3 separate regions of the Homo sapiens genome follow, and regions 2 and 3 are each linked to region 1. Evidence: fine-mapped expression QTL. A gene starts in region 1. Each other region holds a variant in brackets. All regions are shown on one strand. Distances are from middle to middle.

Region 1 (10,716 bases):
GGAATGCAGTGGCTATTCAAATAGGGCAATCCATAGCCTCAAACTCTTGGACTCAAGCAATCCTCCTGCCTCAGCCTACTGAGAAAAATTTTGGCACAACCATATTGGAAAGATGACTGGAAAGAAAGCTTGCATGTGTGGTTAACAGGCAGTAGAATGATCAAGAAGAGAATTTTCTTCCACTGGGATTCCAACAGATAAGACCTAAAACTGAAAAAAAAAAAAGTAGCATGTTATTAAGAGATATGAAGGTCAATACCTACAGGAAGAGCTAACAAGAATTGAGAGTGAAAAATGGAGAGTAGGAGACAGGAACCTTTTTCTCCTCATAAACCTTGTGTAGTTTTCTCACTTTCTATAGCTGTAGAACTAAATTTTGGTAAAATGTAAATCTAACTTTTTTCAAAAAAGATTTCTCTCTGGCTGTTTCTACACTCCATAGCAATGGATATTGTTTGCAAAATGGAGATTGCATCTTTATTTCTGTTGTTCATAAAGCTCCATCTACTCCAAAGGCCTTTAGAATTTCCACAGTGCAGCCTACAAAGCTCCTTTTTTCCCCTGCTGTGTTAGTTATTTTACACTTATCATGGGTTCTTTCCTTAAAAATGCTGCTGATTGACCACTCGGTCATTTACCCCAGACTAATTCTAAAAATAAATGTTTCTTGTATTGATTAAATACTGTTATCTCTATCTCTACAGACTGTATAATGTTGTACAGTCATTATGCAGGCCCAGATTAATGACATACTAATAACTAAAAGGATAAAACTACAGTTCTTCACATAAAAACATTTGCGTTAGGATACTTCTAGTTCTGCATCATATAAAGTGCATCGACAAAACAACTACTGGCTTGTATTGCTTGAAAAAATTATTTCTAAGCCTGTCTTTTTAAAACTAAATTTATTGTTAAGTGTGTGGAATATTGAGGGCAGTAGCTGGCTGTGTAAGTGAATCTATTTTAAATAAAGATAATTGTTTTTAAAAATAATATAGGCTCAGGTCTGTTTATTTTAGTGGCATTAGCGAAAGACATGACAGGAAAAAAAAAGATTTTAAATTATTGACTTAGATGGTAAATCCTTAAAATGAAGGAATAATTGATGCCCCTGTTTTTCTTTCTACAGTATGCCATGTGAAATTTTAGTCGCATTATTATTTGAGATGCTGGCACGGTCAGTTTTTTACTTGTTCAAACATTTGTGATTTGGTTTTAAAGAGAAACTTAAGTCCAAAAAAAAAGTAATACCAATGTTCTCACCAAAAGAGGGAGGAACTCTCTCTACTTTAATTCATAATACTTAATAGGGAATTTTCAAAAGCAAAAATACTGTCAGTTGCATTTTCACACTTGGGTGAGAATATCAGTTTGAAGAGGCCTGATTCTCACCCCACACATTGTTTCACAGAGAAGAAAACTCACATAAGGAGGCCAGCCAAATCCAGAGGCATCTGCATCTCAGCCCAGGGTTCTTTCCCATGGCATGGCCTCACCCTTGGGGTAAAGGTGATTATCATCATATATAAAATAATAACTACAATGAAACCGCACATTTATTGAGCACTTCATATTCTTCTGGCAGTGCTCCCAGGCATTCCTGGGTTAGCTTCTGTAACCCTCACAGTTTCCCAAAGACGTGGGTGCTCTGACTACCCCCACTTTACCTAAGGAGCTCGAGGTACAGAGGTTTCATAGCAGTCCAAGATCCCCCAGCCGGTGACTGAGCCAGAAACTTCACTGCAATCATGTACCGAAGCCCTATTTAATACATTAAGTGCTTACGGTAAAGTAACTGTGTTACTTCAATGTATTTTTAAAAGGTCCCCTAAGAGAGCTTTGTTATCAAGTAACTTTTTCTCTCGAGTGTAAGGAATTTCGGGGTGGAAGGATGATTAGAGGCGATTGGAGGACGATTAGAGGAGAAACTGTTTTGTTTCCTATTTCTAAATATCTGCCAGGTCACTGTTGGAAATACTTTTTAGAGTAAGAATTGTAAAATCCTAACCTTATCACTTGTAAAATATACAGGTCAGTTAAGCAAACTTTCACCCCTCAATGCAAACTTGGAAAAAAAAAAAAAAAGCAAAGAGACTTCGGAACGTCTATGAGGCTTTTGGAATTAAAAAATAATTCTTACAGCCGACTGCAGCCCTAGTCCTCAGAAGCCCGGGGCGCACCAGTCCCCAGGCCCACCAGGGCACTGCTGTCCGCCCAGCCCCAGGCCTCAGCCACCACTGTGAGGGCGAGGGGCCCCGGGGCCGCGATCTGCCCTCCTCTGGTCTCACACATGCCCTTGGTTTTGTATCCCAGGCCACGTGCGCCGGGGCAGCCGCTGACATTGGGATCTACAGGGTAGTGACATTACGGACGAGTCAGCAAACCGCGGATCTCGCCCATAGGGGGACACACCCCCAGTCCCAGCCGGCCTTGGGAAGTCTCTGACTTCTAGCGCCTAGCCCTCGAAAGCCGAGAACTGGAGAAGCAGGTTCCGGGAGCCTTAGCAGCCCGGGGCGCAGACACCCCCGTGGAGGCTGCAGTAACCTGGCGACTGGGACTTGGGAGTGTAGATGTGGGTTCCTTGCCGAGGCGTGGCAGGCGTGGCAAGTCCGCAGCCGTTGGACACACGTGCCCTTTTTCATAATCGGCAAAGCCTGCGCCCCGCCTGCTTGGCTGGTAGGAATTCGGCACAGACAGCCTGGAGTTCCAGAGCTCAAAATTTGGCCATGCATTCCCACTGTCAAACACCTCTCGCCTCTTTGCTCTAAAGGGTGAGTCCGAGGTGGCCAAGATGGCAAGGCGGTGACAGCAGCGCCATTATCGATGGCTTCTCTGTCCACTCTCACCTGTTCCTGGGGCCTTCGGCCTCAGGTTGCGCTGTCCCCTACGACCAGCGCCCAGGTGCTCGGCCATGCCAAGTTGTGGACTAGCCCGGCGCCTGGCTCAACTCCGCTCCCCTTCGGTCTCATCCGCGTGGCACTGGGGTCTCGGGGAGCTTTGCCGGGATTGCACCACTCACATTCCAGGCGCGTGAGCGCCAAGGGGGAGCAGAGACGGGATTCCCTCATCGCAGTGCTCCTAATCCCTGACTAGAGGGAGGAGGGATCGGCGCTATACCGGCATCTCAGTCCGCCTTCCCTCAGATTCTACCCTACCGTAAAATGGGCCACACTGGCGATTACACGTCCGCGTCCCCCCGCTCCCCGAAGCCATAGCCACCATCCTCAGCCTCGAGCTCTTTGTCCAGTTTGGGTTTTATTCCAACACCCAAAGACCCATGGAGAAAACTTGGGGGACAGGTGGAAAGAAGGTTCAGCGCTCGTTTCTTCAAAAGGCACTCCCGCAAAGCTTAGCTCTGGGCGCATTAGAAACTGCGTTGCAGAACACTCTGGGAGAAGTGAGTGTCGCCAGAATTCAGACACACAGGGGCATTTTTGGTGGAAACCACAGAAGCTCGTTTATAAGGGGCTGGAAGGGAAATGAAAGGAATGAGAAGAGTGAGTCAACAAGCCTTTAAAAGAAACCTGGGGTCTGTGGAAACAACAGTCAGAGAAACCCCAAGAGCGGGCGAGCTAAGTGGCGACGCCTCGCTGCGAGGCGTCCGCGGACGCTTCCGCACTAAGTGGGGGCGCACGCTGGCAAAGGACTGGGGAACAAGTTCTTTCCGCCTCGGATGCTTCAGACCCTGGATGGAGCCAGGCACTGGGAGTGCGCCCCCTAATCACCAGCCCGGCGCTGGCAAAGTGGAAACTGGGAAGAAAAAACATCGAAGTGTTTGACAGCACCTGTTGGACCTGGGCACGCAGGAGCTACAGACGCCCTCTCCTCCAACCCCTTCACCTCCCTGGGACCCTCTACGTACACCGCGATGGGCGGTCGTCAAAGGTTGTCGCAGCCACACGGCGCATACCTGAACGAGTGCCCGCGCGCACCCGACCTCAGCGCCGCAGTGGGGAGTGGGGTCTGCAGAGTGGACGAGTGTGCAGGGAGAGCCGCGGAGAGCGGTTGGGTTAGGGCCCGGGGCCCGGGACGCGCCCCTGCTCACCTCTCTCACTGGCCTGGATATTGCGCACGATGTCTTCCAGATCCAAGTCTTTGGTCTCGTCGAAACTGTAGATGGACGTGTGCAAACCCTCCTCCTGGAAGACCTCGTGGACCCCCTCGAGGGTGAAGTAGCAGTTCCGCTCCAGCTTGTCGTCGCTGTAGACCAGTGCAGCGCGGCTCCAGTGGTGGTGGCGGAACAGGGCGAGCATCATCTCGCCCATCTTGGCGTAGGCGGGCGCCACGCGCGTGAGGTGCGAGTACTCAGAGTCCTTGTGCTGGAAGCCAGCGGCCAGCGCCCCAGCCGACAGCATGGGCAGGTCCCAGTGCGATGCAAGCCGGGCCACTGGCGCTGCTGCATACTCGCACACTGGCCCCAGGATAAGGTCTGGCTTGGCGCCCCGCGCCGCCGCCACGCGGTCCACCAAGCTGAAGAGCGCACGGTTCCCACAGTCTGAATCCTCGTAAGCCACCTGGAAGCGAGTGCCCGGCGGCAGAAGCCGCCTCCCAGTCCCGTTGCCCTCCACGCTGCGCAGAGCATACTCGATGGCCGGCCGCACCCGGGTGAGTGAAAACAAGTACGAGTCATCCTGGGGCAGTAACACCAGCACCTCGATCTTCTGTGGCGGCAGCGCCTCTCTCTCCTGGCGTCCGCCGCCTATGCCCGCGCCACCGCCGCCGCCGCCAACGCCACCGCCACCGGTGCCGCCGGCCAGCAACGCCCAGCCGAGTAGTACGCACGGGGAGAAAGTGAGCACCAGCAGAGACGGCATCGTGCCGCAAGAAAGAGCTTGCCCTCGCCGCCGCCGACTCGCCCTCTGCCCCCCACCCACCCTTCCTCTTTCCTCCCCACTCTTCTCTCCAAGGTCCCTGCGCCCCCTTGGGCGCTTTAACAAAATAGAATACCCCCTTCACTAATGCGCCAAAAGATAGAGAGGAAGCGTCCTTCTCTGCAATGTCACTAGTTTTTCTTAAAAAAAAAAGAAAAAGAAAAAGAAAAAGTTCACCGGGTGTAAACCTGTGCGTCTGTAATATACATATATATATACTTGTATATATTCGCCCTCCGTTTATACATATACTATTTTGCTTAGAGGTGGCTTCTTATTTGGGCGTTGCTAAGGTTGCTTTTGAAAGCGTTTTTGTAGAAGAAAAAAAAAGTTAGACTTGTCCAAGTGTTTGTAATTGACGGTGCATCTCCCTCGCATTTGATCTCATTGATTCGCGCCGGTTCCTGGATCCATAGCCCGCGTTTAAATAGCGTGGCAGCGGCTGAGCGTGTTACCACACATGGCGCGCCGAGGCCGGGCTTGTGTTTCCAGCGGGTGGGGTGGGTGGGGGTGGGGAGATGTGGGGGCTGGGCTGGGGGAGTCTCTCATTAACATTCTTACATCAGGGCTCCTCCCTGCACCCCTTCACTACCCATCGCGCCCCTGTCCCTAACCACCACTCCCCGCAGGCCCTCTGCCTTTTCCTTAAAGCTGAAATCGCCCACGTCTGCACCGGCAAGAGCCCCCACCACGCCGCGTGCCTGTGCGATCACCGCCTCTCCCTTTCCACGCTCTCCAGCTCCTGGCTTCAAAAAAGGAAACGTGCTTTAAAGTAGAGAAATGCGCGCGCGCACGCACACATACACACACACACACACACACACATATACACACACACACCGTGCAAAAAAAAAAAAAAACCAGGACTGGGGGAAAGGGATGGTTCTAGAAATTGTGGTTTCGGTGCAAAAATCCTTAGGTGCCGCTTGCTCTCACCTTTCTCGTTCTGGCCACATTCCCTCCTGAAGCACCGACGCGGGGCGAGCACCTGACCTTCCTGGTCCCTCGGCGCAAGGTCAGGGAACAAGGACCAAGGTCCCAGTGCAGATGGCTCCATCGCGGACCTGGTGTGCCCGGCTGGCCCGGGCGTCACCTACACCCCGCCTTCCTCAGCCCCGCGCCAGCCCCCTCCCCCTGGGCCACGCAGGTTTGCGCTGGAATCGCAGCGGTGCCGAGGTCACAGTGTCCCAGCTCACGGACCCTCTGTCAGCGCACTGAGAGCAGGAAAGTGAAACTTGTTGCTCCCAAAGGCGAGGGAATGGTTCAACTTCTGGAGGTGTCACAAAGCTTGGAAAGCATCCCCAAAGCGTCCTCGGGGCTTTGTTTGCTAAACCAGGTACCTAAATAAAGGGACTGTCTTTCCCAAAACGTTCCCGGTAGGTCCCCCGGGTACGACACACGCTCCCCTCCAACCTGAGTGCTCAAAGATCCAACCGCTCCTTCTCTGGAGCGCTCGAGGCACTGTGCTGGGGTTCCGCGACTCCAAGAAAGGTCCTGCCTCGGAGACCCAGTCCTCCCACTGGCCATAGCCACAGCAGCGGTGGAGACCGGAGGGAAGCGGCTCTGGAGAAGTCCGTGACCAGAGGAGCATCGCGGGAGTCCGCCGCGCGGCGGGGCGGGTCAAAATGGAACTGGACCTTCTGTGCCTACTGCAGCCAAGTCATTTGCAATGTGAACGGGCTACACTGGGCGGGAGAATTCTGACAATTAAGTCCCGCACATTTAAATACATTGAAAATGTGTTAAAATGGTCTTTCATTTGACTAGGCGTCCGTGTCCACAAATTTCTTTTAGTCTCAGACCGACGCCCTCTTTCGGCAGAAACTTGCACCCGACTCAACCCGGGTGCCGCAGTCCCAGACGCTGCGTTTTTTACTCCGAGGCCTTTAACGCGCTCTGGTTCTCACTTGCGACGGTGAAAAGGCAAACTGGGGTTTCTGGGGATATGGCAACTTCTGGCGTCAGCGCTCGCCTCCCTTAACAGCACTCTCCTTATCGCTCTTTCTGGAACCGTCAATGTGATTATGGGTAATGTTTCAGCTTCTGGGTCATTTATATTCAGATTATGCACTGTGATCCCGAAATCTTCACTGTTAAGTAGGAGCTTCTAATTCCTGCGAGAATTTCCATTTATTTAATTAGAGCCACTAACCAGGAGCAAAAGAGACATCTGTATAAAATTTAATTCCACAAACAGGGTAATCCACACACACTGGAAATTGAGATTTAGTGCTCCACAGCAATTAAATCTTTCCTGAATTTGCAGAAGGGCAGGCGTTTATGGCAGCACAGATTAAAAAAAAAAAAAAAGAAAAAGAACAACAACAAAACAAGAACTAAATCATGAATTCCAAGGGTCTTAATGGATTTCGAAACTGGTTGCCAGGCACTGTGCTGGGGTTCCGAGACTCCAAGAAAGGTCCTGCCTCGGAGACCCAGTCCTACCACTGGCCACAGTGGTAGGAACCAGTGTTTCCTATTACTCTGCGGTATGCCCTGTGTCTGCGGAACACCAGCCAATGGCGATATGATTCTGCCGCGTGTGGTGTGGGTTTATGCGGAGAGTCTGGGGTTTCAGTGGCACCGGTGTGAACGCCTGTCCCATCCCAGATGCTACCTAGCCTCGCCTGCAGTTCAACAGCAGGGCAGTGCGCTTAAGTAAGGGTGAGTGCCCGTAGCCTCTCCGCAGCTTTTGGACAAGAGCTCTCGACTTGCAGTTTGTCACACTCAAGAGCAGCAACAAGACCAAGCTGCGGAAGGGAAGAGACCCCAAACCAAGCAGCGGAACGAATTAAAAAAAAAAAAAAAGCCAGTGTTATGCTTTTGCTGAAGCTCAAAACACCCCTTAAGAATTCCAGTGAGCAACAATTAGGGTTTTTAAAAAACCTTTTCAAATGAAAAGAGTCACAAGATTATGGGAAGACCCACCAAGTAATGTAAGTGTATGGATTTCAAAGTTACGGGTTTGTTTACTTTCCATCAAGTTAGAATTTTTGCAACCAACTGAAAGTTTGTGTAAATAAGTAGTTCTAAATCTTCAGGCCAGAAGACTTAAGTCACCCAGCCTGACACCCCTTACTCTCTAGATGAATTAAGGCCCAAACAGTATAAGTGATATACTTAAATACCTCTTCATCCCCTGAGAATATTTTTAAATGGGATTGTATTCAAAGTAAACCAAGGACCACCAGTTACATCATGTGAAAGTGTTAGGAACAAAGTTAATTTCTACTCTAAGTAATAACATTCTTTATATCAAATTTTTATATATATATATAGCTAAGTTTGGAGGCTAATACAGCACAATAAACCCAAAAATAACATTTTGTAATAGAATTTTTGCAGCACTTTAATCACAAAAATGAATCAAAAGGAAAAAATAGAAATAACTTATTTATTTGACTCAATTTTTAAATATTATTTCTTTCAATTCTGTAAAACACTGAAATGGGGAAAAATAAGTATTTTTTTAACATTCAAAAGAGTGGTAACCTTTTTACTAGGTGCTTCCTTTCTGGCTTCAGTTGTTGAATGAAACCAAAGGAAAGTTATGGGAAAATGCTGCAAAATGAAAGAAAATTAGCCATTTGAAAGAAAGACAATGTTAGCTCTAAACAGGATATTTCAGAAACTAATAGACTTTTTATGAGGTTTAGAAATGTTTTACTTAATATCCACAAACCATGTTTTGTTGTTTGGGTTGTTTTTTTTTTTTTTTTTTTTAAAGCTACTACAATAAGGTGGCAAGCTACTACAATAAGGTGGCAAGTTTTCTATAAAGTATTCAACGGTTTATTTTCCAGCTCTATGAAATGAAATTACTGTCTATATGTTATTTCTCACTACCAGGAAAGACAGCATTAATATAGGAAAACTAACATGTGATTCTTTGAAGTGTATTAGAAATTCTATCAGAAGTAAGTTTTCTCCACCACCAACTGTAACAGTCTCTGCAACTCTTCTCCCTTGGCATCCTGGCTGCAACCTCTAAACTAAGAACCCACCTAGATTTTCAGAGGTCCTTTTCTCCCTTGTTGAGCCAGCCCTAAAGTTGTATTCGAGAATACCCCTGTGAAGCCTGTGGCCCACAATAAAATACCTTCTGAGGCCAGAATTGTTGAAAACACACTCCCCCCTAGAGGCAGAAAAGATGAAAGAACATTACAAATAATTCAAGAACATTTCTGTAATGTAATCAGTGTTGAGATTTCATTCTTTACATATAGTTGCTGTTTTAGAGTGAACTATTCAAGAAGTGGGGAAAAAAAATCAATGGATGCCAAAAAATTAAATTAAAATTTTGCCTCTAGGTTCTTACTTTCCTTAGCAGGGACTTTATTAACTTACTCTTTTTCTTCTATTATATAAATCTATTATTTTAATTTGCCAGCACTATAAATAATAGTAATTTTATATTTTTCTAATTAAATTTATAATTCAATCTCATCAGAAGCTGCAGCTAAATGTGACCTTAAGGGGTTCTTTTGAAAACACAGAGTTGTTTCTTTATTATAATCCTCTTAGATTTCCATCAACTACCATCTTTTTTTCACTTCTTTGAAGATGTTCTGAGGCAAAGTGACATTAGAAAGACTTCTGAAAAACGTATAGCTAGTCAGTGATTTAACCTGAATACTGGCATAAGATTTGCAAGCTATATGAAGAATTCTCATATCATTGATTTATAGACAAGTTAATTTATGTAGATTATTATATTCACAAAAACGAGTGTGAATGGGGACTTCAAAAAGTTCATGTAAAATGGAATTAAAAGATAAAAATTTAAAATATGAACTTTATTTCTTAACAAAAGATTCATCAAGTTCAAGACACTCTTCTGAGTGGTGATCCCAACCATGTAGTTTATCCCTAAAAAACCAAGGGTCCTGGAAACTTAAGCATGTCAATGCAATCTTTATTAACTGAAAAAAATAAAAAATGAGTGCCCTTTACAAATTTATTTAAGATCAGGAAACAAAGAGAAGTCAGAAGGAGCCAAATCAGGACTATAAGGTAGATACCTAATGATTTCCCATCAAAACTCTCACAAAATCACCTTTGTTTGATGACAGAAATGAGCAGGAATATTGTCGTGGTGGGGAAGAAGTCTCTGGCGAAACTTTCCCAGACATTTCTAGGCAAAGTTTTGACTAACTTTATCAAAACACTCTCAAAATAAACAAAAGTTACCATTCTTTGATCCTCCAGAAAGTCAACAAGCAAAATGCCTTAAGCATTTCAAGAAACCATTGCCATAACCTTGGCTCTTGACCACTTCCACCTCTTGGTAGCCACTGCTTTAATTGTGTTTGTCTTCAGGATCATGTTGGTAAAGCAGTGTTTCATCCCCCTGTGTATTAGGCCATTTTTGCATTGAAATAAGGAAATAACTGAGACTGGTTAATTTATAAAGAAAAGTTGTTTAATTAGCTCATGGTTCTGCAGGATGTACAAGAAGCATGGCACCAGAATCTGCTCGGCTTCCGACGAGGGCCTCAGCAAGCTTACAAGAATGGCAGAAGGCGAAGGGGGAGCAGGCACCTCACATGCTGAGACAGAGTGCAGGGTTGGCAGGGAGGTGCCACACACTTAAACAGCCAGATCTCATGAGAATTCACTCACTATTGCCAAGGACAGCACCAAGTCATGAGGGATACGCCCCCATGACCCAAACATCTCCCACCAGGCCCCGCCACTGACATTGGGGATTACAATTCAGCATGAGATTTGGCAGGGACAATTCTCCAAATAAATGCTTTGGGATATTTCACTTGTTTAAAATTTCCATTGAAAGTTCTGCTTTTGTCTTCAACTAATCTGGCTGCAACAGTTTTGGCACCCA
Region 2 (10,716 bases), 140 kb after region 1:
TCATGCCTGTAATCCCAGCACTTTGGGAGGCAGAGGAGAGTGGATCACTTGAGCCCAGGAGTTTGAGACCAGCCTGAGCAACAAAGTGAAACCCCCATCTCTACAAAAAATAGAAAAATTAGCCGGCCATGGTGGCATGTGCTTGTAGTCCCAACTACTCGGGAGGCTGAGGTGGGAGGATGACTTGAGCCAAGGAGGTCAAGGCCTGCAGTGAGCTGTAATTGCTCCACTGGCCAGCCTGGGCAACAGAGTGAGACCCTGTCTCAAAAAAAAAAAAAGAAAAAAGAAAGAAAAAAAAAAGGTAATATATTTCAGTGAAGTGCACAGTATTTCTTTCTCCTTCTTGACAGCGGCTCACACTTTTAATGAAGGACCCAAGCCAGCACAGTGCTCTCGTAGCCACAGCAGGTGTAAAAGAGAAGTTGACTGTTTCAAAGATAAAAACGATGAACCGTTCCCAAAATAAACATTAATCTTTTGAAACCATCAACCATGCAGAGTAATGCAAATACTAAATTGGGTTGTTTTCCAGGATGACTTTTCTTTAAGAATGTCAAATGGCAAAAAAAAAAAATGCACCTGCTTTTACAGCTGCGACTCTGAACAGAATCAAGCAAAGTCCCCCAGTGATGCATCCTGTCCAATCTCATAGGTATAGAAAGGAGGCATTCTTAGCTAAGAAGAAGAACTGGGCTATTTTCACTTTGACTTGCCCTTCTTTGCGTGTGTTCAAAGTAGTGCTATTTATAAAAGTTCTAAAATCAAAAGATTAATACAGTCGAGGAACTTTTGAGGCACCCTCTTAGACACTGGCTCAGTTTCTTCTCTTTCAGCAAGCTGAGCTGCAGTGACTGCCAACAAGGAGAGAAAGAAGGTGATTGCACGTGAGAATGTAGAAACTGGAGCGCTTCTTTCCAGCCTCCTTTGTGAATTCTCTCAGAGGTGGAAAGCCCATGGCATCATATCACAATAGCCTCCTTCTGTCATTTTAAAATGCACAACCAGGATTGTTATCAACAATATTATTGTTATTATTATTTTTGTCATTTTATTATTTTGGTGTGGGAGAATCTGATTCCCTGAGCATAAATGTGGGGGGGCTGTGTGTGTGTGCACACATACACACACATACATATTAAATGACAAATTAAATGACATACTATCCATTGTTGTTGAATAAACAAGAAATGTTTTGTCAACTCTACAGGAGATGCCAATAGAATCAATAAATACAGAGTGAATTCGAAGAGCAAGGTACTATGCCAGCCATTTTGAAACAAAGATGATTCATTCGAAAGGTAAAGTGACTGCTAATGGGTATGAGGTTTCTTTTTTCTTTTTTTTCTTTTTTCTTTTTTAAATAGAGACAAGGTCTTGCTATCAGGTATGAGGTTTCTTTTTTTTTATTGTGAGACAGAGTCTTGTTCTGTCACTCAGGCTGGAGTGCAATGGCTTGATCTTGGCTCACTGCAACCTCTGCCTCCTGGGTTCAAATGATTCTCCTGCCTCAACCTCCCGAGTAGCTTGGACTACAGGCATGCGCCACCATGCCCGGCTAATTTTTTGTATTTTTAGTAGAGACAGGGTTTCACCATGTTGGCCAGGCTGGTCTCGAACTCCTGACCTCAACTCCTGACCTCAGGCGATCCACCTGCCTTGGCCTCCCAAAGGCGTGAGCCACTGCGCCCAGCCAGGTATGAGGTTTCTGATTGTGGTGATAAAAATGTTCTGGAATCAGTGATGATGACTATATCACTTTGTGAATATACTAAAAATCACTGAATTGTAACTTTAAAAGGGTGAATTTTATGGTGTGTGACTTGTTTTTGTTTTTGAGATGGAGTCTCATTGTGTTGTCAGGCTGGAGTGCAGTGGTACTATCTCGGCTTACTGCAGCCTCCGCCTCCCGGGTTCAAGCGATTCTCCTGCCTCAGCCACCGGAGTAGCTGGGACTACAGGCACACACCACCATGCCCAGCTAATTTTGGTATTTTTAGTAGGGGTTTCACCATGTTGGCCAGGATGGTCTCAATCTCTTGACCTCATGATCCGCCTGCCTTGGCCTCCTGAAGTGCTGGGATTACAGCACCACTGCACCCAGCCTATGGTATGTGAATTCTATCTCAATTTATACATACATACATGCATATATATAATTAAAGAATAGCTAGTATGTGCCAGAGAGTCTGTGCTAGGCATTGGGTAAATCATACCTAACCTGTTTGAGTTACTGACTCTGTGTCAGCCTGTATGCGAAGTTCTTTGCATACATCCTCTTATTTGATCTTTATAATCTCCTTGGAGGGAATGAGTATTGGTACCCCATTTTATAGCTAAAGAAATGGATTTAGAGAGTCCCTTGCTCAAAATCACATGTGAAGTTAGGTTTAATCATGTGAAACTGCCATTTTGTAGACAGTATTTATGTTCATATGTCATCAGTTTCTTATAGCTCAATCTAGTAAGTAGCTGTGTCTCTCTGAGTTTGTCACTGTGTACATCAGGAAACCACTCTAGCCAGATTAAGCAGCAAAGAATCATGAGAAGGTAAGAGCCTATGTCCATAAATGGCAATGTGTACTAAAAACGACTTCATATGAGTGAAGAAATAAGGTTATATTGTGTGAAGTCACAAATAATTTGAGGTTTATCTGTTATAGCACCTAGCACCACTTACCCTAATGAATGCACCAGGCCTATTGGACTCCAGAGGCTGTGTTCTTGTCCACTGGTAATTTGTCTCCTTCAGGGAGTTTAGAATCTGTTGACAGATACATGTACAATGTACTAGAATACTAGAATCAAAAATAGAAATTCCACTAGAGTGAAAGAAATAATGAATTATAAGGTTAACATAACAGAGAACACAAAAACCAGTGGCTTAACCAAACTAGGCCCTTATTCTTTTCACAAAGCAAGAAGTCTGAGGATACAGTCCAGAGTTAGAAGGTCATCCTCACAATTCCGTTAGCGACCCAAGATATATCTTCCTTTCCACACCACCATCCTTAGCGTGTGGCATTCTGTGAAGGAAGGATAAGTCAAAGGACAAAGGTGCATGCCAGTCAAATTAACCCCTTTTTAGGCCCCCTCTGAAGTCTCTCCCAGAAATGAACACTTGACAAGAACTATTTCAGTGGCTGCTTGTGATTTCAAGGAAGACTGTAAAATATTTTTTTTTATTTTTTTATTTTTAAAAACAGGATTTTTTTTTTTTGAGATGGGGTCTCACTACATTGCCGAGGCTGGTCTTGAACTCCTGGGCTCAAGCGATCCTCCCGCCTTGACCTCCCAAAGTGCTGGAGTTTAAGCTACGTGGCATGAGCCACGGTGCCCAGACTAAAATTTGATTATTCCTAAGATGGTGAAATTTATCACTCTGTACAAATTAGGATGCTGTTAGTAATGGAAAATGAGGAGTGAACAGTAGGAAGGCAACTAACACATTCTGCCTCATACAGGAAGAAAGTTCAAAAGCCTGGGTAGACAGAGACGGACAAATGTCTACTACAGGGATCAGCCAGGATTTACACCCAGGTTTGACTGCTCCAGAGCCAGTACTGTTAACTCCAGGTGATGCTGCCTCCTTCATGGAGTATATAGTGTAGAAATGTGTTTGCACTACTTACTGTGACATAAAGATATTATATTAGTTTCCTATTGTTGGTGTAGCATATTACCACAAACTCAGTAGCTTTAAATAACAATAATTTAGGGTTTTACATTTCCAGAGTTCAGAAGTCCAAAATCAGTTTCACTGGGCTAAAGTCAAGGTGTTGGCAGGGCTGGTTTCTTCTAGAGGCTCTAGAAAAGAATCCGTTTCCTTGCCTTTTTTTAACTTCTGGAGGCTGCCTGCATTCCTTGGTTCATGGCCCCTTTCTTGAATCATTCCAAGCTCTTGCTTCTGTGTCCCATCTCCTACTTTCATAATGAAATCTCCCTCTTCCTCCTTTTTATAAGGACACTTGTGATTACACTTAGTGCTCATCCAGATAATTTAAAATAAACTCTCCATCTCAAGATTCTTAACCTAATCCTATCTGCAAAAAAATTATTTTGCTTTATAGGGATAAAATCAAGAGGTTCCAGGGATTAGGACATGGATACCATTGATTGACATATTATTCAACCTACCACAAATAGTAAGTTAGAAATTATTAAGTGCAAGGAAAAAAAAAAAAAAAAAAGGATGACCACATTGGCAATTGCCTTGAAAAAGGAGCAAGCAAACTGAGAAACATAAGATTCAGAAGGCCAAAAGAGAAATACTACTTGGAGAGCCTGAAAGAAGAGTATAAACAATCTGGAAATGGAAAGATAACACAGACATCATGGGGAATAAGTAAAATAACCCTAAACTACAAACAGGCTGTGTCAGAGCTGAGGGGAAACTTTGAGACCGAGAGACCCAGTAAGGGTTTATCTCCAAAGCTAGACAAAATGTGGTTCAAGATTACTCATGGTGGCCAAGCGTGGTGGCTCATGCCTGTAATCCCAGCACTTTGGGAGGCTGAGGCAGGCAGATCACTTGAGGTCAGGAGTTCAAAACCAGCCTGGCCAACATGGTAAAACCCCATCTCAACTAAAAGTACAAAAAAAAAAAAAAAGAAAAAGAAAAAGAAAAATTAGCCTGGTGTGGTGGCACATGCCTGTAATCCCAGCTACTCAGGAGGCTGAGGCTCGAAAATCGCTTGAACCTGGGAGGCAGAGGTTGCAGTGAGCCAAGATCACGCCACTGCATTCCAGCCTTTGCAACAGAGTGAGACTCAGTCTCAAAAAAAAAGAAGAAGAAAAAGATTACTCATGGCCCTGGGAATGTCTTCCAAGCCTTTTGTACCCTCCTGTGTCCTTTCCAGTGATAGAAGGCGGCTCTGGCTCCTCTTAAAGTTTGGAGAGCCTCAAAATCAGTACTCAGATGAAGCAAGAGAGGTGCCTGGTGCCCACACTGACCCTGGACTTGCATCACCCTAAGTGTCTCCTTACTTCTTAAATTTTACACAACAGACACCTCACTTTCTCTCACCCCAGTCCCCAGCTCTGGATAGCTTATAGATAAGCAAGGCCTTGAGGTCTTGAGGAGTTTACCAAACCCTGAACAATGTGAAGAAAGACATTTTAAGCGGTATAATTTATCAATCTTCCTCCTATTATGAGCCCTTGAAGACATTTTAATTTCTGAGTCTAGACATTTTGATGAAGCAAGGCATCCCTTCACCCAGGGGAGCACTCAAACAAAAGCTGAATGTCTCCTACTATTTGCTTTTGCTTTTGGTTAACTTTATTTCTTTTTTTTTTTTTTTTTTTGAGATGGAGTCTCCTTCTGTCACCAGGCTGGAGTGCAGTGGTGTGATCTTGGCTCACTGCAATCTCCACCTCCTGGGTTCAAGCGATTCTCGTGCCTCACCCTCCCGAGTAGCACACGCCACCATGCCCAGCTAATTTTTGTATTTTTAGTAGAGACGGGGTTTCACCATGTTGGCCAGGATGGTCACGAGCTGCTGACCTTCTGATCCACCCACCTCGGCCTCCCAAAGTGCTGGGATTACAGGCGTGAGCCACCGCGTCCAGCCTTCCTT[CCTTTCTTT/T]CTTTCTTTCTTTCTTTCTTTCTTTCTTTCTTTCTTTCTTTCTTTCTTCCTTTCTTTCTTTCTTTCCTTTCTTTCTTTTCTTTTTTAAGATGGAGTTTTGCTCTGTCACCCAGGCTGGAGTGCAGTGGCACAATCTTGGCTCACTGCAACCTCCGCCTCCCAGGTTCAAGTGATTCTTTTGCCTCAGCCTCCCCAGTAGCTGGGATTGTAGGTGCCCACGACCATGCCCCATTAATTGTTTGTAGTTTTAATAGAGACAAGGTTTTGGCATGTTGGCCAGGTTGGTCTCAAACTCCTGAACTCAGGTGATCCGCCCACCTCGGCCTCTCAAAGCACTGGGATTACAGGGGTGAGCCACTGTGCCCGGCTTCTTTAGGTTAACTTTCAAGTCATCAAAGTTCAAGTGTCTTAAAAAGGAGGCCACACCCCAGGGGATTCCTCCCTGCAACAGGCCTGCAGGGACCTCAAGAAGATCTCTGTGAGGACACAGGAGGCACCCAGGAGGCCTTGCTGCTCATACCCCTGTGTGACCTGGATTCTGTGGACTGCCTGTGCATGGCTCTTTTGCTAGTTTGGTGGTAAAACAAAGCAAAAGGTGAAAAAGAAATAAGGATTAAAAGTATCTGCTATGGTTTAGATATGGCTTATTTCTTCCCCCCAAAAGTTACGTTGAATTTGATCCCCAATATGGTGGTGTCGGGCCTAGTGGGAGGAATTTGGGTCATGGGGGTGAATCCATCATGAACAGATTAATGCCCTCCCTCAAGGGTGAGTGAGTTACACTCTAGCTCTATTACTTCTTGGGAGACAGCCAGTTGTTAAAAAGAACCTGGCACCTCCCACCCTGTATTAGTCCATTCTCACATTGCTATAAAAAAATACCTGAGACTGGGTAATTTATAAAGAAAAGAGGTTTAATTGGCTCATGGTTCTGCAGGCTGTACAGGAAGCATGGTGCTGGGATCTGCTTGGCTTCTGTGGAGGCTTCAGGAAACTTACAATCATGGCAGAAGGTGAAAGGCAGAGCAGGAGAGAGAGAGTAGGGAAGGTGCTACACACTTTTAAATGCCCAGATCTCATGAGAGTTCACTCACTATCACAAGGACGGTACCTAGGGGGATGGTACTAAATCATTCATGAGAAAGCCATGTCATAATCCAATCACCTCCCACCAGGCCCCACCTCCAACACTGGGGATTATGTATCAATATGAGATTTGGGCAGGAATACACATCCAAACCATATCACCTTCTCTCCATTGCTTCCTCTCTCACCATGTGATCTTTGCAAACACCTGCTCCCCTTTGCCTTCCACCATGAGTGGAGGCAGCCTGAGGCCCTTACCAGATGCAGATGTCCAATCTTGGACTTTCCAGCCATCAGAATCATGAACCAAGTAAACCTTTTTTTCTCTACAAATTACCCAGCCTTAAGCGTTCTGTTATGGCAACACTAAATGGACTAACCATCAAAGTCTAAACAGGAATGCTTTTTCTTATTATGACTAGAAAACATGTAACTTCTCCTGATGAGACTGTCCCAGAGAAAAAAAGAAAACAATCTGAAAATGCAGGAGAAAAAATGAATCCAGGAATGTTTGAAAGTTAACCTTTAAGCTCATGTTCCCTACAAGGGTTGGGAAGAGGGGCCGGTTTGAAAGACTGATGATTTGCTCTTGTGCAGGGTTCATCGACCCTGACAACATTACATTTGGGGTCAGATAAGTCTTTGGCAGTGGGGACTCTGCTTTGCATTGTAGTATGTTTGGCAACACTCTTGGCCTCAACCCACTGTATGTCAGTGATATCTCTGCCCTAACTGTGACAACCAAAAAAATGTCCCAATATATTGCCAAATGTTCCCTGGAAACAGAAATAGTCCCTGACTGAGAACCACAGCTCTGGGGAGTTATCAGTGCTTCAGCTGAGTTCATCAAAGTAACTTTCCCATCATAGAATTCCTGTTAACTCTGAATGAGAAGAAAGGCAATAGTATTCTTCAAAATGACATGTCACAGAACAGTAACTCATCATTCCTGTTACCCTAGAATAATAACCAAAAATAGATTACAAATGGATTTTTATATATTATATGGAAGCCCTAAATTAGTGGAGGAGGGGAGACACAGGGAGCTCACTGTGCCCCTCACAGAGACTTCCAAAACACCTTATACCTCTCCATCCACAAAAACTCACCTGCAGATGCTCCCTCGTCCTACCCTTCTTATCTGAAAATGATACCAACAGCTACATCTTTTTAACTCTGCAATTCAGGGAATCTCAATGGAGATCATTAGATAGGTGACAATTGTTTTAAAGTGTTGAACTTTACACGTACCTAAAAAGTTCATATATATGTGTGCTCTATAAATGAAATTATATATTTTTTATATATGAAGTTATATATATACTATATATAATTTTATTGTATATAATAATATATACAATATACATATACATTTATTGTATGTAGTAATACAAACTGGCCCCTCTTCCCAACCCTTGTAGAGAGCATGAGCTTAAAATGTAATTATAAAATAACCCTGGATTCATTTTTTCTCCTGTGTTTTCAGACTGTTTTCTTTTTTCTCTGGGACAGCCTTATCAAGAGAAGTTATATGGTTTTTAATCATAATAAGAAAAAAATTCCTGTTTAGACTTTGATACTTAGTCTGTTTAGTGTTGCTATAACAGAATACCTAAGGCTGGGTAATTTATAGAGAAAAAAAGGAGTTAGTTTTTTCTAGGAACCAAAGATAATAGTAAAATGGACGTTGGTGCAGCTTCAAGTGTTTCAACACAACATCCTCTCCATGGATGCTCACAACAAGGTGGGGAAGTGATTAGCATCATTTCTTATGCATCTGGTGTCCATGGTAGTCACATAGATAATAGGCCTTTAACTACCTCTGACACCAAAGAGGAAGTGCAATGTGGTGCACATTGTACATTGCATGGAGAGAAACTGCCTGTCAGGACCACCCCTCTCTGCAGCCCCTATGTCCTATCTTATGGCTGTCAAGGTAATCAAGTTGCTATTTATAAGGAGGCCCAGGCCTGCCATCCCCACCTTCTCCCCTTCCTCCAGCCCCCATCCCCACCCATGCTAGTTCTGCCTGCAGTTGCTGCTCTGCAGTTCTCTCCTCTCAGCAACATCAATTTTTCATTGCTTCAAGCCAGGTCTCTGAGCATCCTTAAAGCACCTCTCCTGATACCTCCTGTACAGCTGGTTCAGTGATTAGCTCTGGGAAAGAACAGAGATGGACCATTAATTCCCAAGGCATGTCAACATTTCCTTGACTGTCTCCCTGTGAAGAAGTCTGGGGTGTTGGGGAGGCAGCTGTTTTGCAGTTTCCCCATAAGAGTGAGAAAAGTAAACCACAGCAGAAGGATGAATAGAATAGACATAAAGTTACAATGGGGAAAGAAAACTCCGCTTTAAAACAGGTTCCTTAAGGGCAGGATGTTGAAGATTCCAGGTGCTGTTTAAACTGTGCTGTCAAGGTGCACTGTATTTCTTTCCATGCTTCCTGTTTGTCCCCTGTAAGACAGAGTCTGAGGGCAAAGTCATCCCCACCAGTTGTAAATATCTACCCTAACAACTGATAAGGAGTACAATGGCCATACATCTTTAGACTTCAGGGTAGTTTTGTTAGTTAGGATTCTCCAAAAAATAAAGAGAAGCAACAGGATATAGTGTGTGTGTGTGTGTGTGTGTGTGTGTGTGTGTGTGCGCGTGTGTGTGTGTGTGTGTGTGTGTGTGTGTGTGTGTGTGTGTGGAGAGAGAGAGAGAGATTGTGGGTGCTGGCAAGTCCAACATTTGCAGGTCAGACCAGCAGACTGGAGACCCAGGGAAGAGTCGATGCTACAGCTCAAGTCCAAGGCTGCTTGCAGGCAAAATTATCTGTTCCTTGAGGGATCTCAGTCTTTTTTCTTAAGGCTGTCAACTGATTGGATGAGGCCCACTCACACTATGGAGGGTAATCTGCTTTACTCAAAGTCTACTGATTTAAATGTTAATCACATCCAAAATACCTTCACAGCAACATCTAGACTGGTGTTTCACCCAGTTGACACATACAATTGACCATCAGAGCAATCCTAAAACCTACCAAGTACAATAGGATCTGAATCAGGGCTGAAATATAGGCAACTGCCCCTAGGGAGCCTCTCTGAGATGATCTGAACTTGATAAACGGGAAGGCAGTTCTGCCTTGCACCTACCTCTCTGCTGCCATCTTGTTCAAGTCTGCCCTAAAACTGTAACTCCTGCTAGATCCCCATATTTCCTTCCCAAATGACCGCAATGCTTACACAAGCCCCTTGTACTTGCTGGCCTTTGCTGGTAGTTCAAAGTCAGAATGGTTGCCTAGATCTCAAGTAGGCCTAGGCCACAAATATTGGAGCACTAATGTGGGGAGCCTGGAGCTATTCTGGGATGGAGGAGCCTGGGTTGGAACCAAGAGCCAAGATAAGTAAGCACAATGTAATGGAAAGATTACTAGCCTGGGAACAGGGTGACCTAGCACTATATTTGTCACTAACAAATATCAATTAAGCACTGTGTATCTATTTCCTTATTTGTAAAATGAGAGGTTTGGGCTCAGTGACCCAGAGCTGTATAGTCCTTTCGAGCTCTAAGATTTGTTGGTTTCATTAGGCTATTGTAATGTGGGGTCTGACTACCGGATGGCCACCAAATCCATGGCCAAGCTGGCCCATATTTTAGGAGCCAGAGTATTTTGGATTGCCTTTTTTTTAAGGGATGGGGTCTTGCTCTGTTGCCCAGGCTGGAGTGCAGTAGTATAATCAGAGCTCACTGCAGCCTCTCAACTCCTGGCTTCAGGTGATCCTCCCATCCAGCCTCCCAAAGTGCTGGGATTACAGGTATGAGCCACCATGCTCAGACTAGATTGTTATTATTTATCCTTTTATCCATTCATTTATTAAACTTGTGCCTACCCTATGTAAGAAAATCTTCCATAGTATTATGAGAAATACAAATAAATTAAATACAGTATCTCTGCCTCAAGGAACTTAAAATCCAGTTGGGACATAATTCAGTTAGGATGTGTTTGGCTGCAAATAACAGAATTCCTGACCAACAGTGGCTTAAGCATTGTAGACCTTTAT
Region 3 (9,019 bases), 110 kb after region 1:
TCAAACAAGCCTAGACATTTGATTGGAAGAGAAAAGATCAAATATGAAGTTCACAAACCAAAAGTTTATAAACTCAATGCAATACAAATCCTTTTTATTGTAAAAGCTGAGTTGAAACTAAAAGATCTATAAAAACTGTTACTTTTGGCCTTAAACAGTACCAACTCTTATGATCAAAAAAGGCCACAACAGTTAAGATTGTATTACTTGATTTTATTTTACACTAGGTGGTGGGCAGACAAAGTAATCCTTAATAAAGTTGACAATTAGCTTCACTCAATATTTTTAATAATGCACATTAAAAAAAAGTATTCATCTTACAAATTCTTCTGCAATCCAAACATACAATAGCTTGGAGAACATTTAGAAAACAAAAGCCAATGTAAAAAGACAGATTAAAACAACTAGAACAGTACAGGTTTTATTTATATGGCTCGAATTTTACAGTTTTCTTACTGCATCATCAATGTCAGAAATCTGTTCCTTCAGCTGGCTCCATTGTTCTGGATTTAAAGAAATACCTAAAACAAAGTTTAAAAATTCAAAGGTGAAAATCTATTTAAGCGTTGAGGATTTTCATACTTCCAACTAGAATACTGTTTTATCAAAATTGCCACTTTAGGCTGGGCGCGGTGGCTCACACCTGTAATCCCAGCACTTTGGGAGGCCAAGGCGGGTGGATCACTTGAGGTCAGGAGTTCAAGACCAGCCTGGCCCAACATGGTGAAACCCCATCTCTACTAAAAATACAAAAATTAGCCGGGCATGGTGGTGGGCACCTGTAATCCCAGCTACTCAAGAGGCTGAGACAGGAGAATTGCTCGAACCTGGGAGGTGGAAGTTACAGTGAGCCAAGATCATGCCACTGCACTCCAGCCTGGGCAAGAGAGCAAGACTCCATCTAAAAAAAAAAAAAAAATTGCCACTTGGACACAATGCTACAATACTGAAAATCATATCTCTTACATTTGTTAATTACATATCATCACAATTTACTGAGCATTATCAATCTCATATCCAGTCTTACTTTCCACAGTGCATCCTGCATAGTACCTATTGTAACCAATGAGAATAAATAAGGGTTTGAAGACACATCTTACTAATACCCGTCAACTATCAGGCTAAAATGGTCAGGTCCAGATTTGGCATGTGATACCCCATTACTATATTTCCAGCTGGTTCCAATATTTGCCCAAAATTTCCACAGGAATTCAAGCCAATTGTGCTGAGTTCTTCCAGAAGCATTCATTTCACTTTGGAAAAATTCCCAGGACGTGATTCATACAGGACTCCTCAGAGAGTATACCCGGGTAACTGCACTCTAGGGTCACCCTATCAGGGTTAAAATTCCAGCCTCACTTTCACTAAGTGTATGACCCTTAAAAAAGAACTACATCACCTTGTAAGCCTTAGTTTCCTCACCAGTAAAATGGCATCTATACGCCAAAGAGTTGTTGTAAATGATTAAGTAACATGAATAATGAACTTAGCATATCACCTAACACATAAATGGTTAAAAAATGTGAGATATGTCTTTCCAGTTTAAGATGTAAAAGTATGAACAGAAATTTTATATTTTCTATATTTTGTACTTTAACGTTCTAGCATTCCAATACCGACGCATATAAACAGAGAAGTAAACAAGAACTGGCAGAAAGTATTCCCAGAAAACTGCTGGAAGGCCATGAAATTGAAAAAAAAGAATAAACAAGAAATATGGCATCGGCCACTCTGGTACGTGAATTACCAATCCAGAAGTGACTTGAAGAAAATATGAAAGCATATAAACACATATAGAGGCTGAGTTTAACCAAAAAAAAAAAAACTGCATGAAGCAAACAAGTGGTACCTTTCAAACTAACAGGCAGGCAGAATAAAACTAAATAAGGAAGCATTTTTCTTTAGCTGAGGGTCAACCTAGAGCAGCAATCCAAATATACAAATTTAGGTTGGCTCACCTTCTCTAGCTGTTTGGTGAATTATACAAAATATGTTTCTACAATGCTAAGAGGCTTGGGACTGGATGAAGCACAAATGGAAGGAAAGCAGAGATCCGCTTGAAGAGTAATGCCCTAAAGAATAGCTTTTAGGAGCTGAATCAAAAGGAAGCATTGTAAACCAAGATTTTCCATTCCTGATTTTACAAGTTCCCAGATAGTGCCTAATCTGCTTCAGAATTGCATAAACCTTTTTAAAAATTGTTCAAGTAAATTAGCAGCCAACTGAAGTGATATTAGGGGTGTTACTTTTCTGGGTTTTATTCCCAAAAGCTGTATTAAGACATCTCATTAAAAAAATGTTAAGTATCATGTCCAAAATAACTACAGAAGATAGAGAATCAATTGAGTAAGACTCTTCCTTGCCCCGTGTGTCCTGCCAACATTTCAAGTAAGCTACTCAGAAAAGTTGTCGTTTAGTCCTAACACTGTAATAAAATTCAAGTAATTAGACCTCACCTTTTCTTCCTGGTTTCATTTCACCTTCAGGATCCATCCAATATTCTCTAATATCAATTAGCACTTTGCCTTTAAAATCGCGAACACTAACGTACCTCATTTTCCCAATCTGCAAAAG[A/T]AACAAACATAAAAAGAGGTGCTCCTTTCAAGAGTGGTATCTGTTTCAATTGTATTCATATTCACAACTTGCTGCATGCTCACTCTACATCTAATCATGAAAATGACTACTGCTGACCCTTGAACAACATGGCTCTGAACTGTGCAGGTCCCACTTATATGCATATTTTTTTCAATAAATATACTGGAAAAATTTTTGCAGACTTGACAATTTGAAAAAACTCACAGAACAACTGCATAGCCTAGAAATAACGAAAACATTAAGAAAAAGTTAGGTATGTCATGAATGCATAAAACATACCTAGATATGAGGTTATTTTATCACTTACTATCATAAAACATACAAATCTATTATATGAAGTTAGAGAGAAATGTAAACAAAGATGGAGTATTAATTCATAACTGCATAAAATTAACTACAGTAGTGTACTAGTGTTAACTTCATAGCCACTTCCTGTTATCTCAGTGTACTCAAATGTTACAAGTATCTGCTTAAAACACCTTGTGTAAAACACCATGTGATGCTAATCATCTCTGCTGAGCAGTTCATGTCTCCAACAAATTGCGTATTGCAGTAAAAAGTGATCTCTCACGGTTTTCACATTATTTTTCATCATGATTACTGCAATACCATAAACTTTAAATAACACCATGAGTCCTATACAAAGTGCCCCTAGTGATGCTGAAAGTGCTCCCAAGAAGCAGAGAGAAGGCATGACATCACAAGAAAAAAACTGCCAGAAGCAGTGGTGCATGCCTATGATCCCAGCTACTCAGGAGGCTGAGGCCGGAGGATCACTTGAGCCCAGGAGCTTGAATCCAATCTGGGCAACACAGCAAGATCCTGTCTTTAATTTTAAAATGCAAAAAAATAAAAATAAAAATAAAAATAAAAAAGTTGAATTGCTTGATATGTACCACGGACTGAAATCTGCAGCTGTGGTTGCCTACAATTTCTAACAGATGACATATTTTATTAACAGATGACATATCTTATAAACAGACAACGTAAACTAATGTTATTGATAAACACCATACAGTACAGTAAAATGTAATTTTTCTCCCTTATGATTTTCTTAGTAATATTTTCTTTTCTCTAGCTTACTTTATTGTAAGAATACAGTATATAATACATATAACATACAAATATATGTTAACTGTTTATGTTACTGTTAAGGCTACCAGTCAACAGTAGGCTATACTTAGCAGTTTTGACAAAGTCAAAAGTTATAACCAGATTTTCAACTGCACAGGGGTTGGTGCCTTGCATTTTGACCCTGCATTGTTCAAGGGTCAACTGTACTACTCTCAGTATCAAAACTGCAACCAAAGGAAATTGCTGTTTAAACTATCATATGATCCAGCAATCCTACTTCTGAATATATATCCCAAAAAATTGAAAGCACAGACTCCAAGAGACATCTGCACACCCATGTTCATAGCAGCATTATTCACAAGAGCCAAGAAGTGGAAACAACACAAATATCCACCCAGAGATGAACTGATAAACAAAATGGGAGAGGGGGGGTGGAATAGACACACAATGGAATATCAATTAGCTTTTAAAAAAGGAAATCCTGTTACATACTACGTCAATGAAATAAGCCAGTCATAAAAAGGAAAAAGGTAATACTTTATGATTCCACTTACATGATGTCAAGTTCACAGGAACAAAAAGTAGAATGGTGGTTACCAGGGCTGGGAGAAGGGGAACTGTTGTTTAATGGCCACAGAGGTTCAGTTTTGCAAGATGAAACAGTTTCGGCAATCTGTTTCACAACAATGTGAATATACTTTTATGGTTTTTACCAGCAAAAAAAAAAATCATTAGGAAGCAATATTTTGCAGTACAAACTACAACCAAGAGGAATCCACAGATGCAACTAGCTACACTGCTTCACCAACCATTCTGAATATACGAATCCAGAGTTCCAGTCAATAACAACCAAGTTTTTCCTTTTCATGTTCACTTCAAATAACATCTTTAATGCACCTCACTCACAGTCAGATTGAGAACTTAAAAATATTCACAGAAAATTATTTTTCAAAAATCTTATATATCTGCTTACCACAAATTACAAATTCCAGAGAAAAGAACAGGCTTTCCTCAACAAAGTGTCTCTTAGCACTTTCCAAGACTCACTATAATATAGTAAGGGAAGACAATGCAGTACTGGAGTAAAGACAGACATAAGAGGTCAGTGGAACACAACGGAGTCAAAAAATACACACGCATTGGATATATTCACTGATTTTTTTGGGGGGAGGGGGTAAAATCCAAGGTAATTCAAAGGAATAAGAATACTCTTTTCAACAAATGGTGTTGAAACAACAGGCTATCTGCATTTGGGGTGGGGAAGACTCTAAATCTCTATCTTACATCATACACAGAGAAATTAATTCTACATGAATTATAGACCTAAATGTGAAAACTAAAACTATAAAACTTCTAGGAAAAAACACTGGCAAAAATTTTTGTGGCCATGGTAGGCAAAATACGTCTTGGACAGAAAATAAGCATTAAGCAAAAAAGGAGAAAAATCGATAGAATAGACAATCACACTAAAGCCTTTTTTAAAAAGATGCTTCAGAAAATAAAAAGGTAAACCAGAAACCTAAAGAAAATATTCACTCAAGTTGGAGCCACAGGGGTCTTGGCCTTCGAGGAGAGCCTGAGGAAGAAGCAGAACCGTGGACGTGAAGAAAATGATGAACTGACCAGAATCCGTGAGGACCTCATTTCCAAGAGAGAGAAGATCTGTCACAGACGCCCCTGACCAACTGCCAGTCCCCCCTTATTCTGTCTGTTTGATTCTCTCTGGTTTCATATTTTCCTCTCTGTTAACCTCCACTCATTTTTGAACTAGATTGCTTTGAAAACTAAAGTTTCCCTGAAGTCTAAAAAAAATATTAATTATACTTACATCTGACAAAATATATAAAGTGTTACAACTCAAATGACCTGGCATTTTAAGTGGCCAAAAGATACTCTTCACAAAAGATATAAAAATAACCAATAAACACACTAAAGATGTACAATGAATTAAGACATGTACATGAGGGAAATGGAAAGTAAAACCACCATGAGCTACCATTATACATTCAATGTAACTAAAAAGAAAAAAACTTAAAAGACTGACAATATCTAGCGAGGATGTGGAGCAACTGGAATCTCCTAAGTAGTACCGATGGCTGTGTAAAATGCTACAGCTACTATGGAAAATGGTTTGACAGTGTCTTATACAGTTACACATTTACCCTACGACTCAGCAAATGTATCTGGTATTTACCCAAAAGGGAAAAAATGTCCACAAAATGACTTGTACAAGAATATTCACAGCAGTTGTATTCCTAATAGCCCAAGACTTGATACAATCCCAATGTCCACCCAAGGTGAATGGATTTACAAGTTGTAGTATTATCATACAAAATACTACTCAGCAATAAAATTACTGATATATGCAACAAGAACTAATCTCAACACATTATACTGAGCAAAAGCCAGACACAAAAAATAGACTGCATGTATCCATTTATACAAAGTTCTAGAAGAGACAACATAAATCTATAGTGGTAGAAATAAGATCAGTGATTACCTAGGACATGAGCAATGACTGTAAAGCCAAGAGGAACTTCCTGGGGTGATGAAAATGGTCTGGCCACAAAGGCGTGTACATTTACCACAGCCTATCAAGGTATGCTTTTAAATGTGTGCGTTTTATTGGACATAAACTATACCTCAAAAACATTTTTTTTTTTAAAAAAAAAAGGAATCTGCCCAACAGCTGCCTCTCCCTTGGGGGGAAAAAAAGAGTAAAACTGACAAATTCTTATTAGCAAAAATTAAACAAGTGATGAGATAGTAGTATAGGGATATATTACTTAAAGATAGAAAAAATAAAGATCACTGAAATCACATTTTATTGGAAAAAAATAAAATCAGATGACAATATATTTTATATCCACAAAATCTGGAGATTAGCAGCAAAAAATAGCATATACATCATAAAGAACTGTGATTCTTATACGAATTTGATTCCCTGTCCCCTCTGAAGATCTGATAAAGCAGTGGTTCCTAACCTTTTTGGCACCAGGGACCAGTCTCACGGAAGACAATTTTTCCACAGCAGGTAGGGAAGGGGAAAGGTGATCGTTTCAGGATAAAAATTATCCCACCATCAGGCATTAGATTCTCATAAGGAATAAGGAACGCACAACCTAGATCCCTTGCATGCGCAGTTCACAATAGGGTTCGCGCTCCTATGAGAATCTAATGCCGCTGCTGATCTGACAGGAGGCAGAGCTCGGGCTGCAATGTTCACTCACACACCGCTCACCTCCTGTGCAGGAGGGACCCCTGTGATAAAGGTTATGAATAATTCCTTCAAACACAAAAAAGAAAACTCAAATTAAAAAACAATTCTATGGACTCCTGCCCCAGATTAAAATGACCAGTTATAATCATTTTAAATTAAATAATTTAAAAGTATCAAGTATCCTTAAATCATCAAATAAACTAAAGCAGTATTACTGACCCTTTGTGCCTAACTCTGAAGAAAAATATGGATTAAAGTTTCCTGCCTCAACTATTCTGACCTTTCAAGACACAGGTACTAAATAATTATGAGATAATTCTCCAGTCTCTTTACTATCACAGATGTCACCTCAGGTAGACTACATCCCTATGGAAGAAAGTTCTTCAAAATCAGAGCTGAAGGAACCAGGAAGTAAGCATCTCTAGTATCTTCTCTCTAGTCACGATTCTGCCCCAATCACTTCAGACTTTAAAAGATAAGTCTATTGATTTTTCTTTGGTACAACTCTTTAATACATTTAGAGAACTGCTTATGTATTGATGTTTGATGTACATCAAGCTGTAATGGCAATGAAATTAAGTATCATATTATTTCATAATGCCTACACTACTAGATCCATGAAAGCCACTCTGAAAATAAGGCCTAGGCTGGGCGCCGTGGCTCACACCTGTAATCCCAGCACTTTGGGAGGCCAAGGCAGGCAGATGGCGAGGTCAAGAGATCGAGACCATCCTGGCCAACCAGGTGAAATCCCGTCTCTACTAAAAATACAAAAATTGGCTGGGGGTGGTGGCGCATGCCTGTAGTCCCAGCTACTCAGGAGACTGAGGCAGGAGAATCTCTTGAACCCAGGAGGCGGAGGTTGCAGTGAGCCGAGATTCGTGCTACTGCACTCCAGCCTGGTGACAGAGCGAGACTCCGTCTCAAAAAAAAAAAAAAGAAAAGATGACCTATGTTCCTCCTAGAGGCAGGCTTTCAAAAGGTGCAATGTCAGCCTTAGGAGGCTTAGGAATCTTTCCAGATGAGGGTTTAAGAAATGAAGCTCCGTTTTTCTGGTGAGAAAATTCCTAAAATTAGATCTAGTTTTCACAAAACTCCTCTTAACAGAACAGAATCTCTAAAATGTGTGTTCTGAACTAAATAGTTCATCTGCACTTTGTCTATCTTTTTTACCTAGAAGTATAACAAGGCAAAAATAAGCAATAGGAAAAAAAAAACTTAAATTTTCCCATTCTCACCTTAATCTTGGCACTCCACCTTTCAAAGTTATCAACAGGTCAAAATATACATGTGTTAGCCTTACTTTCTAGTCATATAAATGTCTACAGTCTTGGCCAGTCACGGTGGCTCACGCCTGTAATCCCAGCACTTTCAGAAGCCAAGGTGGGCGCATCACTTGAGCTCAGGAGTTCAAGACCAGCCTGGGCAATACTGTTTCTACCAACAACAAAGAAAATTTGCCAGGCGTCATGGAGCATTGCCTGTAGTCCCAGTTACTCAGGAGGCTGAGGCAGGAGGATCATTTGAGCCCAGGAAGCGGAAGTTGCAGTGAGCAGAGATCACACCACTGCACTCCAGCCTGGGTGACAGAGCAGAGACCCTGTCTCAAAAAAAAAATTGTAGTCTCGTTCCACCCAACTTTTTGGTTTCAACTAATACTTATAGCTCCTGGAAACACTCATCCTTTTCTTGCTCCCATTACTGCACTCTTCTAATTTTCCTTCACCCTCTCTCTTAACCTACATCCTCTTTTTCCTTCCATTCTCTATCTGAATATAACCCAAGACATCCCCTCATCTGCTTCCTGTTCTTCCTCTGTTTAATACTTCAGTAGGCAGCTTTAGTCAACCATGCTGATAATCCCACATGAACATTTCCCAACTAAGCCCTTCAGGTGCTACAGAAGCAACACCATTTTTTTTTTCAATCACATCCACAATCAAGTCCACATCTTCACTGACTGCCTAATTCCTCTGGTCCATTCTTCCTAACCTGTATCTTGTAATTGGCATAATTTCTTCTTTAGGAAAAACCATCTAAGCCCTTATCACCTCACATACAGATTAAAGCCTACAATTACCTAAGCAATCTCACCTGCATTCATTTATTCCCCAACATCCCTTCCTCACA

Direction of the effects. Positions count from the first base shown, and alleles are read on the strand shown. Sizes are in standard deviations (SD) of each study's normalised expression. Not every link is listed here.
For the expression in CD4 T cells of the gene that starts at base 5,273 in region 1, allele CCTTTCTTT in region 2 goes with a higher level than allele T (large effect, 1.7 SD a copy in Kasela 2017).

What was found. PIP is the estimated chance that this variant, and not a neighbour inherited with it, causes the effect.
Region 2: its variant is fine-mapped to the expression of NPR3 in CD4 T cells (Kasela 2017, PIP 0.95).
Region 3: its variant is fine-mapped to the expression of NPR3 in blood mononuclear cells (TOPMed, PIP above 0.99).

What each region holds. Positions count from the first base shown.
Region 1 is chr5:32,705,878-32,716,593 of GRCh38, reverse strand. It overlaps NPR3 (natriuretic peptide receptor 3), which reads right to left and starts at 5,273. Exons shown (of 8, transcript NM_001204375.2): 1 at 4,049-5,273. The coding sequence starts at 4,817. RefSeq lists a silencer at 4,017-4,311 and an enhancer at 4,187-4,912.
Region 2 is chr5:32,563,136-32,573,851 of GRCh38, reverse strand. It overlaps LOC124900954 (a long non-coding RNA gene), which reads right to left. Exons shown (of 5, transcript XR_007058719.1): 5 at 2,120-2,761. Among named protein-coding and RNA genes, the nearest start is that of SUB1, 17 kb to the left of the region's middle. RefSeq lists enhancers at 252-311, 602-691. The variant CCTTTCTTT/T (reference allele first, on the strand shown) is at 5,577.
Region 3 is chr5:32,592,507-32,601,525 of GRCh38, reverse strand. It overlaps SUB1 (SUB1 regulator of transcription), which reads right to left. Exons shown (of 5, transcript NM_006713.4): 4 at 2,457-2,565; 5 at 1-521. The coding sequence ends at 442. Among named protein-coding and RNA genes, the nearest start is that of SUB1, 11 kb to the right of the region's middle. The variant A/T (reference allele first, on the strand shown) is at 2,575.